Linked DNA regions of Homo sapiens. The protein of the gene in region 3 purifies or fractionates together with the protein of the main gene of each other region. This does not show direct contact. Each region holds a gene or a part of one and is shown on either strand. Other genes may lie near its edges. The genes, in order: PCSK9, SMOC1 and TCTN1.

What was found.
Region 1: the proteins of TCTN1 (region 3) and PCSK9 purify together in Homo sapiens (affinity purification with mass spectrometry; one large-scale study listed by BioGRID and IntAct). This does not show direct contact.
Region 2: the proteins of TCTN1 (region 3) and SMOC1 purify together in Homo sapiens (affinity purification with mass spectrometry; one large-scale study listed by BioGRID and IntAct). This does not show direct contact.

The regions. Positions count from the first base shown.
Region 1 is NC_000001.11:55,049,548-55,053,047, reverse strand, and holds part of PCSK9 (proprotein convertase subtilisin/kexin type 9 isoform 1 preproprotein), read right to left. Parts: intron 1,857-3,500; exon of another isoform or gene 1,595-1,856; intron 771-1,594; coding exon 637-770; intron 402-636; coding exon of another isoform or gene 399-401; coding exon 257-398; intron 1-256.
Region 2 is NC_000014.9:69,882,191-69,885,915, forward strand, and holds part of SMOC1 (SPARC-related modular calcium-binding protein 1 isoform 1 precursor), read left to right. Parts: intron 1-3,091; exon of another isoform or gene 3,092-3,725. UniProt on the Homo sapiens protein: Plays essential roles in both eye and limb development. Probable regulator of osteoblast differentiation.
Region 3 is NC_000012.12:110,620,606-110,624,330, forward strand, and holds part of TCTN1 (tectonic-1 isoform 1 precursor), read left to right. Parts: intron 1-3,725. UniProt on the Homo sapiens protein: Component of the tectonic-like complex, a complex localized at the transition zone of primary cilia and acting as a barrier that prevents diffusion of transmembrane proteins between the cilia and plasma membranes.

The DNA.
Region 1 (3,500 bases), on a different chromosome or scaffold from region 3:
GAAAGGTCATTGACCCAGGGTCAAGGCTGAACTCCCTGGGCTACCTGCATGACCCTCTTGGGGCCTGGGTTTCTTCATCTGCACTCGTGGCCACTGGGAACCCTGCCAGCCTTGGCACTCTGGTTCTCTGGCTCTGCGGCAGAGGCTGCCACAGCATTCTTGGTTAGGAGACATTAGCTCTCCCTGGGCCCAGCCCAAGCCACCTCCCAGGCCAGGTCCAGATGGAGAGAGACCAGCGTCTGGGGCCATCACTTACCTATGAGGGTGCCGCTAACCGTGCCCTTCCCTTGGCAGTTGAGCACGCGCAGGCTGCGCATGCTGGCACCCTTGGCCACGCCGGCATCCCGGCCGCTGACCACCCCTGCCAGGTGGGTGCCATGACTGTCACACTTGCTGGCCTGCTCGACGAACACAAGGACCACATGAGAAAGACCCCCCCTCCACCCTATAACAAATCAGCAGGTGGCTGGATGGATGAACGCCCTTCCCACAACTGATGGCAGGGAGGGGACAGTGACAGCTGGGGGGGGTGCAACCCAGGAGTACAGCTGCAACGCTCTGGGGTGGCAGTCCCCACCCACCTCCAGGATGGGGATATGGGCAGAGGCAGCCCTCCCATCAGACGGCCGTGCTTACCTGTCTGTGGAAGCGGGTCCCGTCCTCCTCGGGCACATTCTCGAAGTCGGTGACCATGACCCTGCCCTCGATTTCCCGGTGGTCACTCTGTATGCTGGTGTCTAGGAGATACACCTCCACCAGGCTGCCTCCGTCTTTCCAAGGCGACATTTGTGGGAGAGGAGGGAATGAGCATAAAGTCAACCTTATAGTTAACACACAGAAACTACAGAGCACATCCCAGGCACTGGTGAAAGCGCCTTAAATATATTCACTCGTTTAACCTCCAAAAAATCCTCACACACTACATCCTATTCTATAATGTATTTCATAGACAAGGAAAGGGAGGCCTAGAGAGGGCAGGTAACTGTCCAAGGCCATCAGCTGGCAATGCTACTGCCAAGAAGGACCCAAGTCATCCTGCTCCTTCATATGAATATCAATATCTAACAATAATATGAATGTTCAAAAAATAGTATCAAAGTGTAAAATAAAGCCCCTATTATAGCCTTTCACAGCTCACCGAGTCTGCAAGAAAGACAACAAGATTTAAAGACTCAAAGGAGAATAACAGTGATGTCTGGCCACCTGCGCTGGCCGGCTCATTTTAGAGACAGGAAGCTGCAGCTCGGACAGGATGTATGTCTGGGCCTCCTGGCTCCAGGTCCAAGCGTTCTCCACTCCACAAGATACCAGGAGGGCTCACGGGGACTGCTTCTGCCTCACACGAGTCACAACCTCAGAGAAAACAGTCACCGAGCGCCTACCCTACACTTTATCATCCCTAACTGGATCAGTTTGGATTCTCCAAGAAGCAGGCACTGGGGTAAAAGCTGCAAGAGACTCACTGGGGGAGTCGCCCATGCAGGACAAAGGTTAGGGTATAGGAGAAAGTAGGGAGAGCTCACAGATGCCAGGCAGGTCCAGCCTGCTGGATGGAGAAGGGAGAGAGGAAGAAAGGAAGCAAGGAAGGAAGCACCTCCGCTCCAGCGCAGGTCTCAGAAACTCTCAGCCAGGCCAAAGGAAGACTTCAGGCAGGTTGCTGCTAGCAGAGTCCTGCGCCAGCGGAAATGGCCTGGCCCTGGAACCCCTGCAGCCAGGAAAAGCAGGGCCTCAGGTGGAATCAGAGGGCAGCCCTCTGGGCTGTCAGTCAAACTGCTCCTGCCCCAGGGTCTCCTGAGTCTTCTGAAGTGCCATCTGAACAGCACCTCTGTGGCCCCCGCAGTGATCCTCCAAATATGCTGCAGAGTAGAGATTCTCATCTCAGGACAGGTGAGCAAGTGTGGGAGGCTCAGGGCGTGTACCCACTTCTTATGGCTTCGGTCACAAATTCCCAGACTCAGCAGCGAAGGCTCTGGGAAGAACCCTGCCTCACGTCTTCCGGCTTCTGGTGGCTGCTGGTGTTCCCTGGCTTGTGGCCACATTTCTCCAATCTCCACCTCTGTCTCCACGTGGCCCCTCCTGTGTGTGTCAAATCTCCCTCTGCCTTTCTCTCATAAAGACACATCACAGGACTTACAGCCCACCGCATAATCCAGATGATGCCATCTTGAGATGCTTAATTACATCTACAAAGACCTTTTCTCCAAATAAGGTCTGGCTCACAGGCTCTGTCTGGGTGTGTGTATCTGTGGGGGCCACTATTTAGCCCCCTACAGAGCAATTCAGTGGCTGCTCTGAGATCCCACATGAATTTCAGGCAAGGTCGGCCCCCAGTCCCGCATCCTCCCACCCACCCACTATGCTAGTAGGTCTGGGCACAGTCCGAACTGTGAGTCCCCAGCCTGCACACACACTGTCTACCCTGCCCTAAGGCCTCCAGTCTCGGCAGGAAGCTCCACTGATCAGTCCCGTGGGCACTTTGGTTTCTTCTGTAGCATGCTGAGCAGGTCCTTGGCAGTCTGCCTCTCCTCCCAGGCTGTGGGATGAGGCGGAGTCCTTGCTCTCTGAGTGTGTTAGGAGCTTTCACTCATCAATAGGCATCTACCATGTGCCCGGTGCTACACTGGGAAGGGGTGGCTGAGAGCGCTGTGAGCTCCGACCTGAAGACATCTGGAGACCAAACAGTGCTCGCCACCCTAGAGGAACCACTAGATATTGAGCTGGGCTATGGAATGTCGAAGGGGCAGACACAAGACAAGGCCAGCAAGGTGGGCAGAGGCCAGATGGTGCCAGGCCCATAAGCCATGCTCAGTCTGCTCCTAGCAGAGGCCCCGGGCTGGCTGCAGGGGATACAGGTGCTCAGGAAGCAGCCCAAGGTTTTCCCTCAGAGCTTCCAGGCTGACGGGACAACTGGATACATTGGCAGACAGCCCGGGGAATACAGGCTTATCTAGAAGACAGCACAGAGGCTGCTTCCCTCCCTGGACGTAAGCCACACAACGCACATCGAGCAGAAGGCCTGCTGGGCAGGCTTCCAGTCCATGTTCCTCGTCGTGTGTGAGGAGGGAACTGAGGCTGCAGCTGAGTTAGCCCAGGTGAGAGTCCTTTCTGGTCCCACCCGTGCTTGGGACCACCATCTGCTCCAGGAGCTGTACCTGGGTTCTGCTGCAAGATGATGTGACCACTGTGGGGTCCCATCCCTGGGCCTGGGGTGTGGCCCCAGCGGCAGATGGAAGCTCGGGGAGGCAGCCCCACACCTTCTAAGTGCAGGCGGTTCCTGCCCGCTCACACCAGCCCACTGTCCTGCTGGGACAGGGTCAGGAGGCTGCAAGCATGGCCAGCAGAGGGCAGGTGGGCCTGGTAAAAGCCCCCACAGGAACATCCTTGGGCTTCCTTCCAGTGAGAGGCTGGAAAGGGGCCCAGCTCGGATGAGACACAGGGCCCTTCCTAGGCCTCCCTCTATCTTCCAAACCCCCGGGTGAGGCAGGGGCTGCTAGTTCCCT
Region 2 (3,725 bases), on a different chromosome or scaffold from region 3:
TGGTTGTTGAGAGCGGCGTCATCCGAGGAGCAGAAACATCTGGCTTGTTGCATTATTCCCTGTGGGCGCTCCTAAGTCTCTTCTGTTAATCTTTTGAGTGACAGAGGCTTAAGGATTGGCATCTTTTCCAGCTGGCTTTCTAGGAAACCAAGAGCATGCCCTTTCAGTTTAACTTTATCTGGCTCACTAATTGAGCTCCCCCGAGGCCTAGACCCCAGTCCTCGCCCCCTTATTTGCTTCCTGCCTTCCTTCATAAAATTCTTGACATTTGTTTGACTCTGGAAACCAGCGGCTATCGAGTATCAGATTGGAGGCTATTATGTAGGAAGCACCTGATTTTGGGGTCTCTCAACTGTGAGTGGTTGCTTGGCTAGCTGGGACGTTGGTCAGGATTCTTTTAATCACTGAGGAGGCAGCCGTTTCTTTAATCCTGCACAATTTACTGAAAATGTTTCAGGGGAGGATGGGATGGGGGAGGGGCTCTCCCTGGCTGATGGTGTCTGGCCGATGGTCAAGCCAACTGCCTGTCTTTGTTAAATTCTGTGTCTCCCTTGAAGATGGAAAGCTGGGTGAAGGCAGGAACTGTTTCTGTCTTGTCCAGGGATTTATCTCCAGAGCTCAGCAAGGGGCCAGACACCTGTCAAGATTTACTTTGTTGGTACTGATGGAATGAACAAATAAATGCAGATAATGTGTGTTTGAGAGTGATTACAGGTTCCACTTTGACTGGAGGCAGGAACTAGATTTAAGAAGTGTGAGAAATAGGAGATGATGCGAAGATCAAGAGGTCTGAGTCAGAAATGGATTTTTATTTTTTAAATTTGACAGATAGCATTGTATGTATTTATTGTGCACAATATGATGTTTTGAAGTATATATACATTATGAAATAGTTAAATCTAGCTAATTAATGATAGCATTACCTCGCATAATTATTATTTTTGTGGTGAGAGCACTTAACATCCACTCTTTGCATTTTTCAAGGATACAATAACTTGTCATTAACTATAGTCACTTTGAATAGATCTCTTGAATTTATTACTCCTCTCTAACTATAATTATGTACCCTTTGACCAACCTCTCTCCTTTCCCTCTCCCCTCTTCCTTCCTCAGCCTCTGGTAACCACTGTTCTACTTTCTACTTCTATGAGACCAATTTTTTTAGATTCCACATATGAGTGAGATTATGCAGTATCTGTCCTTCTGTGGCTGGCTTACTTTTCTTAACGTCCTCCAGGTTCATCTACATTGTTGCAAATGACAGGACTTCATTCTTTTCTGTGGCTGAATAGTATTCCTTGTGTATATATACCATATTTTCTCTATCCATTCATCCACTGATAGACAATTAGGTTGATTTCATATCCTGGCTATTGTGAACAATGCTGCAATAAACATGGGAGAACAGGTATTTCTTCAACATACTGATTTCATTTCCTTTGGATAAATGTCCAGCAGTGAGATTGCTGGATCATATGCTAGTTCTGCTTTAAATTTTTTGAGGAATGTTTTTACTGTTTCTCATGATGGCTGTACTAATTTATGTTCCCACCAACAGTATGTGAGAACTCCCTTTTCTCCATATCCTTACCAGCACTTGTTGTTTTTTGTCTTTTTGATAATAGCCATTCTAACTGGAGTGAGGTGGTATCTCATTGTGGTTTGAATGCATTTCCCTGATGATTAGTGATGTTGAGCATTTTTTTTTTTTTTTTTTTTTTTTTTTTGAGACGGAGTCTCGCTCTGTCGCCCAGGCCGGACTGCGGACTGCAGTGGCGCAATCTTGGCTCACTGCAAGCTCCGCTTCCCGGGTTCACGCCATTCTCCTGCCTCAGCCTCCCGAGTAGCTGGGACTACAGGCGCCCGCCACCGCGCCCGGCTAATTTTTTGTATTTTTAGTAGAGACGGGGTTTCACCTTGTTAGCCAGGATGGTCTCGATCTCCCGACCTCATGATCCACCCGCCTCGGCCTCCCAAAGTGTTGGGACTACAGGCGTGAGCCACCGCGCCCGGCCGAGCATTTTTAAATATACCTATTGCCCATTTCTATGTCTTCTTTTGAGAAATACCTATTCAGATCTTTTGCCCATTTTTTCATTGCATTGTTTTTTGTTTTTTTTGCTATTAAGTGATTTGAGTTCTCTGTGTACTTTGCATATTAACTCCTTATCAGATATACAGTTTGTGAATATGTTCTCCCATTCTCTAGGTTATCTCTTTACTTGGTTAATTGTTTTCCTTGGTGTGTAGAAGCTTTTTAGTTTGGTATAATTTCATTTGTCTATTTTTGCTTTTGTTGCTTGTGCTTTTGAGGTCCCCAAACCAAAGTCATGGAGCTTTCCCCCTATGTTTTCTTTTAATAGTGTCATAGTTTTGGATCTTACATTTAAGTCTTTAATTCATTTGAGTCAATTTTTGTATATGGTGAGAGATGAGGGTCTAATTTCATTCTTCTGCATGTGGATATCCAGTTTTCCTAACACCATTTATTGAAGATTTTCCTTTCCCCATTGTGTGTTCTTGGTACCTTTGTTGAAATCAGTTGTCTGTAAATGCGTGGATTTATTTTTGGGCTCTGTCTTCTGTTCCATTGGTCTATGTGTCTGTTTTTATGCCATTACCATGCTGTCTTGGTTCTATAGCTTTGTAGTTTATTTTGAAGTCATATAGTGTGATGCCTCTGGCTTTGTTCTTGTTACTTTTTACTTTGCTTTGGCTATTCAGGGTCTTTTGTGGTTCTACAAAAATTTTAGGGTTTTTTTTTCTATTTCTATGAAGAACATCTTAGTATTTTTATAGGGATTGCACTGAATCTGTAGATTGCTTTGGGAAGTATAGACATTTTCACAACATTTGCTCTTCCAATTCATGAACGTGACATCTCTTTCCATTCATTTGTGTATTCTTCAACCTGAAACTTATTTCTTAAATGTTTTAGATATTTGTTATTTCTTCTCTCACCTCTTGATCACTTGATTCATCCTTCAAAACCCAGTTCCAACATTACTCTCTAGGAACTTTTCTACAGAGCATTCTTTTTGCTTAGGAACGATTACTCTCTCCTTCGAACAACTTCTTTTTTTTTTTTTTTAAGGAAAATTTGTATTATTTTAATTATTTTTATGTACAGAAAACTCAACAGTGTACATTTAACCCAGTTTAGTGGCAAGTTCTTTAGCCTTTGCCTTTTTGCGCTTGGCGATACGAGCCACAGACTTAGGACCCAGGACATTGCCACCCCAGTGACGGCGGATCTCATCGTATCTGTCATTGTAATTGGTCCTGATAGCTTCCACCAGCTTAGCCAAAGCGCCTTTGTCTTCTGAGTTCACCTGTGTGAAGGCGACAGTGGTGCAGGTCTTCCTGTGGACTAGACGTCCCAGTCTTGCCTTCCCCTTGATAATGCAGTAAGGGACCCCCATTTTACGACATAGGGCAGGCAAGAAGACAACCAGCTCGATGGGATCCATGTCGTGTGAAATCACCACCAGCTGAGCTTTCTTGTTCTCCACCAAGGTGGTGACAGTGTTAACTCCTGCTCGAAGGACAGGTGGTCTCTTCTTCGGGACGTCCCCTTTGCCAGCAGCTTTCTTCTCGGCCCGGGCCAACAGTCTCTGCTTCTTCTCTTGCTTTGTCTCTGGCCTGTACTTGTGGGCCAGCTTAAGCAGCTGAGTAGCTGTTTGGCGGTCCAGGGCCTGGGTGAACTGGTTAATCGCAGGAGGCAC
Region 3 (3,725 bases):
TTTAATTTCACAGCTTTTGTTGTGGACATAGTATTTGTAACAAAAAATTAGATAAGAAATCTGTACTTTTCTGATATGTAAATCTACCAGGAATTCTCACAGTTCGCATTGTATAGAACAATGAAAAATGACATTTCCAGCTGATTATAAGGTAAATAAATAATCTGTTCTGAATGATCTCTTATAATTGAGGTTTCAAGGCTTCTTTTTTTTTTTTTTTTTTATGAGATGGAGTCTCGCTCTGTTGCCCAGGCTGGAGTGCAGTGGTGTGATAGTGGCTCACTGCAACCACCGCCTCCTGGCTTCAAGCAATTCTCCTGTCTCAGCCTCCTGAGTAGCTGGGACTACAGGTGCACGCCACGATGCCTGGCGTATTTTTAGTAGAGGTGGGGTTTCACCATATTGGTCAGGCTGCTCTCGAACTCCTGACCTCAGGTGATCCGCCCTCCTTGGCCTCCCAAAGTGCCGGGATTTCAGGTGTAAGCCAACGCGCCCAGCTTCAAGGCTTTTTGAAAAACTAGGAGCACTTAGAAGAGGCTCATTAATTCAGGATGGGACCAACTTAGTATTCAGAGATAGCTAATTTAAATTTAGCCTTATAGCAAGTTTTAGCAATTGATACTTGATAGGTGAACCCTTTTAAGAAGTACAATGGGTTTTTCCTGTGAGAAACTATTTTATTGACCAATGGGATTTTGAGCCTATTTCTAGTATTGTAAAAATGCTCAGAGAACAGGGCAATGTAGTCAGATTAATTTTCTGGCTACCTGGCCTGTAGCATGTTTCAGTATTTGTTGAAAGTCATTCTGTTTTCCTCCCTTTAGTAAATACAGGAGCCTGAAAGTGACATTTTTGCTCCAACTTGGGGCTATTTTTTTTTTTTTTGAGACAGAGTCTTGCTCTGTTGCCCAGGCTGGAGTGCAGTGCCTCCATCTCGGCTCACTGCAACCTCTGCCTGCTGGCTTCAAGCAATTTTCCTGCCTCAGCCTCCCAACGAGCTGGGACTACAGGCGTGTGCCACCATGCCCAGCTAATTTTTTGTATTTTTAGTAGAGACAGGGTTTCACCGTGTTAGCCAGGCTGGTCTTGAACTTCTGACCTCGTGATCCGCCCACCTCGGCCTCCCAAAGTGCTGGGATTACAGGCGTGAGCCACTGCGCCTAACCTGGAAGATCTCTTTTCTCCTTAACCATTAGTACCTAGTAGAGCTCCTGCCACATAGTGGGCCCTCGTTAAGAATGAGTTGAATTGGCTGGGCATGGTGTCTCACGCCTGTAATCCCAGCACTTTGGGAGGCTGAGGCATGTAGATCACTTGAGGTCAGGAGTTTGAGACCAGCCTGGCCAAGATAGTGAAACCCCGTGTCTACTAAAAATACAAAAATCAGCTGGGCGTGGTGGTGGGTGCCTGTAATCCCAGCTACTCAGGGGGCTGAGGTGGGAGAATCGCTTGAACCTGGGAGGCAGAGGTTGCAGGAGCCAAGATCGCACCATTGCACTCTAGCCCGGGCAACAAGAGCGAAACTCCATAAAAAAAAATAATAATAATAATAATGAGTTGAATGGATGAATGAATTTCTCCCTTCCACCTCTAACTGATTTCCTAGTGTCCCTTGTTGACTTCCTCTACCATTAGTCTTTTAGGCCGACACCAGGCCAAAAACCTGGAGGCTCCCCTGACCCTTGCCTCTTCCTTTCCTTTTCCTGTCTCAGCAGTCTTTCCTTTCTCCCAACCTTTCTTGAGTACCTCCTGAATGCCAGCACCAGGGACATAAAGATGAGTTAGGCACTCTCCTGCCTTCAAAGAGCTTACCGTCGAGTAAGGGAGACAGAGGAGTGGATGGCAGTTTCTACATCAAGCACGATGAGAAGGCAGAGGAATGGCATCTAACTCAGCCCCACTAAGGAATGCTCCCCAGAAAACAGGAGCTGAGCTGGGTCCTGAAGGACACGTGGAAGATGGTCAGCATGGACTGAGGGGAAGGGCATTCCAGGCAGAGGGAACTGCGTGGACAGAGATGGGGGGATGTGGGATGGCCTGCTTAACTGCAGGTAACTCAGTGTGGCCAGAAGAGGGGTGGGGTGAGAGGAGTGTAGGAAAGAGATCAGGGGTCAGGTCCCCAGGGGCCTTGTGTATATGCTAAGGGGTTTGGACTCTGTCCTGAAGTCCACAGGGCCTGGGTTGTAAGAGGATCAGATTCCCATCTTATGTAATTCTGCAGCATCATATGCAGTGGATCACAAGGCCAAGCCTGGTGGCAGAGAACCAAGTAAAAAGCTATTGCAGATGCGGATTAACGGTTTCCCTCCCCATCCTCCCCAAAAGCTGTGACAGTGGGGCTAGGGAGAAGTATCTAGATCTGATGATGATACTGAAATACTGCACAGGATTGGGGAGGTGGCTGACTGGAGGGGAGTAAGGAATCCCATTCTGTGGAGCCTTCCATCACTCTAGCCCTCGTGGTCGTCCATCCCTGCTCCTGCTTTATGAGCTCACACCTCATCCTGTCAAGCACTCACTAAAAGACCTTCAGAAGTTCTCATTATCTATAGGCTTCTTAGCCTGGATTCAGATTCATTCCCACCTTCTTTCAGAGCCTATCACCTGCTACCAGCCATCTCAAATCCACTCCAGCCCAACCTTGGTACTCAGAGTTTCCCAAAGACCATGAGTCGTTACCCAGCCTTGGCCATTGCCGTTCTTGCACTTGGATTTGCTTCCCATTCCTACTGTCTGTCTGATTTCTACTTATCCTTTAAGGCCCAGTAAAAACGGAATGATAATATCCAGTCTTGGCAAGGGTACAGGGAAATAGGCACTCTTACTACAGTGTTGGTGAGAATGTATATTGTGCCCTTCTAGAGGGCAATCTGGGAGTGTGTCTCAGAAGCTTTAAATAATGTTACCTGCCTTTTGGTTTAGCAGTTCCAGTTCAGGAAACATATCCTAAGGAAACAACTGGAGACAGTCATAAAGATGTATGTATAAGGTTGTCATTATAGCATTACATATAATTGGGGAAAATTAGAAACCTAAACCTAAACCAACGATCATAGCTCGCTGTAACCTTGCTCCTGGGCTCAAGCAGTCCTCCTACCTCAGCCTCCCAAGTAGTTAGAACTATAAGCATCTGCCAGCATGCCGGGCTAATTTTTTCTTTGTTTTCTGTAGAGATCGGGGTCTGTGTTGCCCAGGCTGGTCTTGAACTCCTGGCCTCAAGTGATCCTCCCCAGCCTCCCAAAATGCTGGGATTACAGGCATGAGCCACGGTGCTTGGGCTGTACCATATCCATATCTATATTGGTTAAACAAATTGGGGTATTAATAGGCTGGTATACGATGATGAAGCCACTTATAATATTGTAAGTGCATATTAGGCATTATATATTAAGTGAGAAAAGCCTTAAAACAGTATGTAGAATATGGTCCCATTTTTATTATGACTATCTCTATACTATTATCTGTCTGTCCAGCTATCTGTCTATTTTTTTTTTTTTTTAGAGACAAAATCTCACTTTGTGGCCCAGGCTGGTCTTGAAATCCTGGCTTCAAGTGATCCTCCTGCCATGGCCTCCCAAAGTACTGGCATTGTAGGCGTGAGCCACTGTGCCCAGCCTCTATGTTTTTTTGAGATAGGTCTTGCTCTGTCACCCAGGCTGGAGTGCAGTGACACGATCATAGCTCACTGTAACCTTGCTCCTGGGCTCAAGCAGTCCTCCTACCTC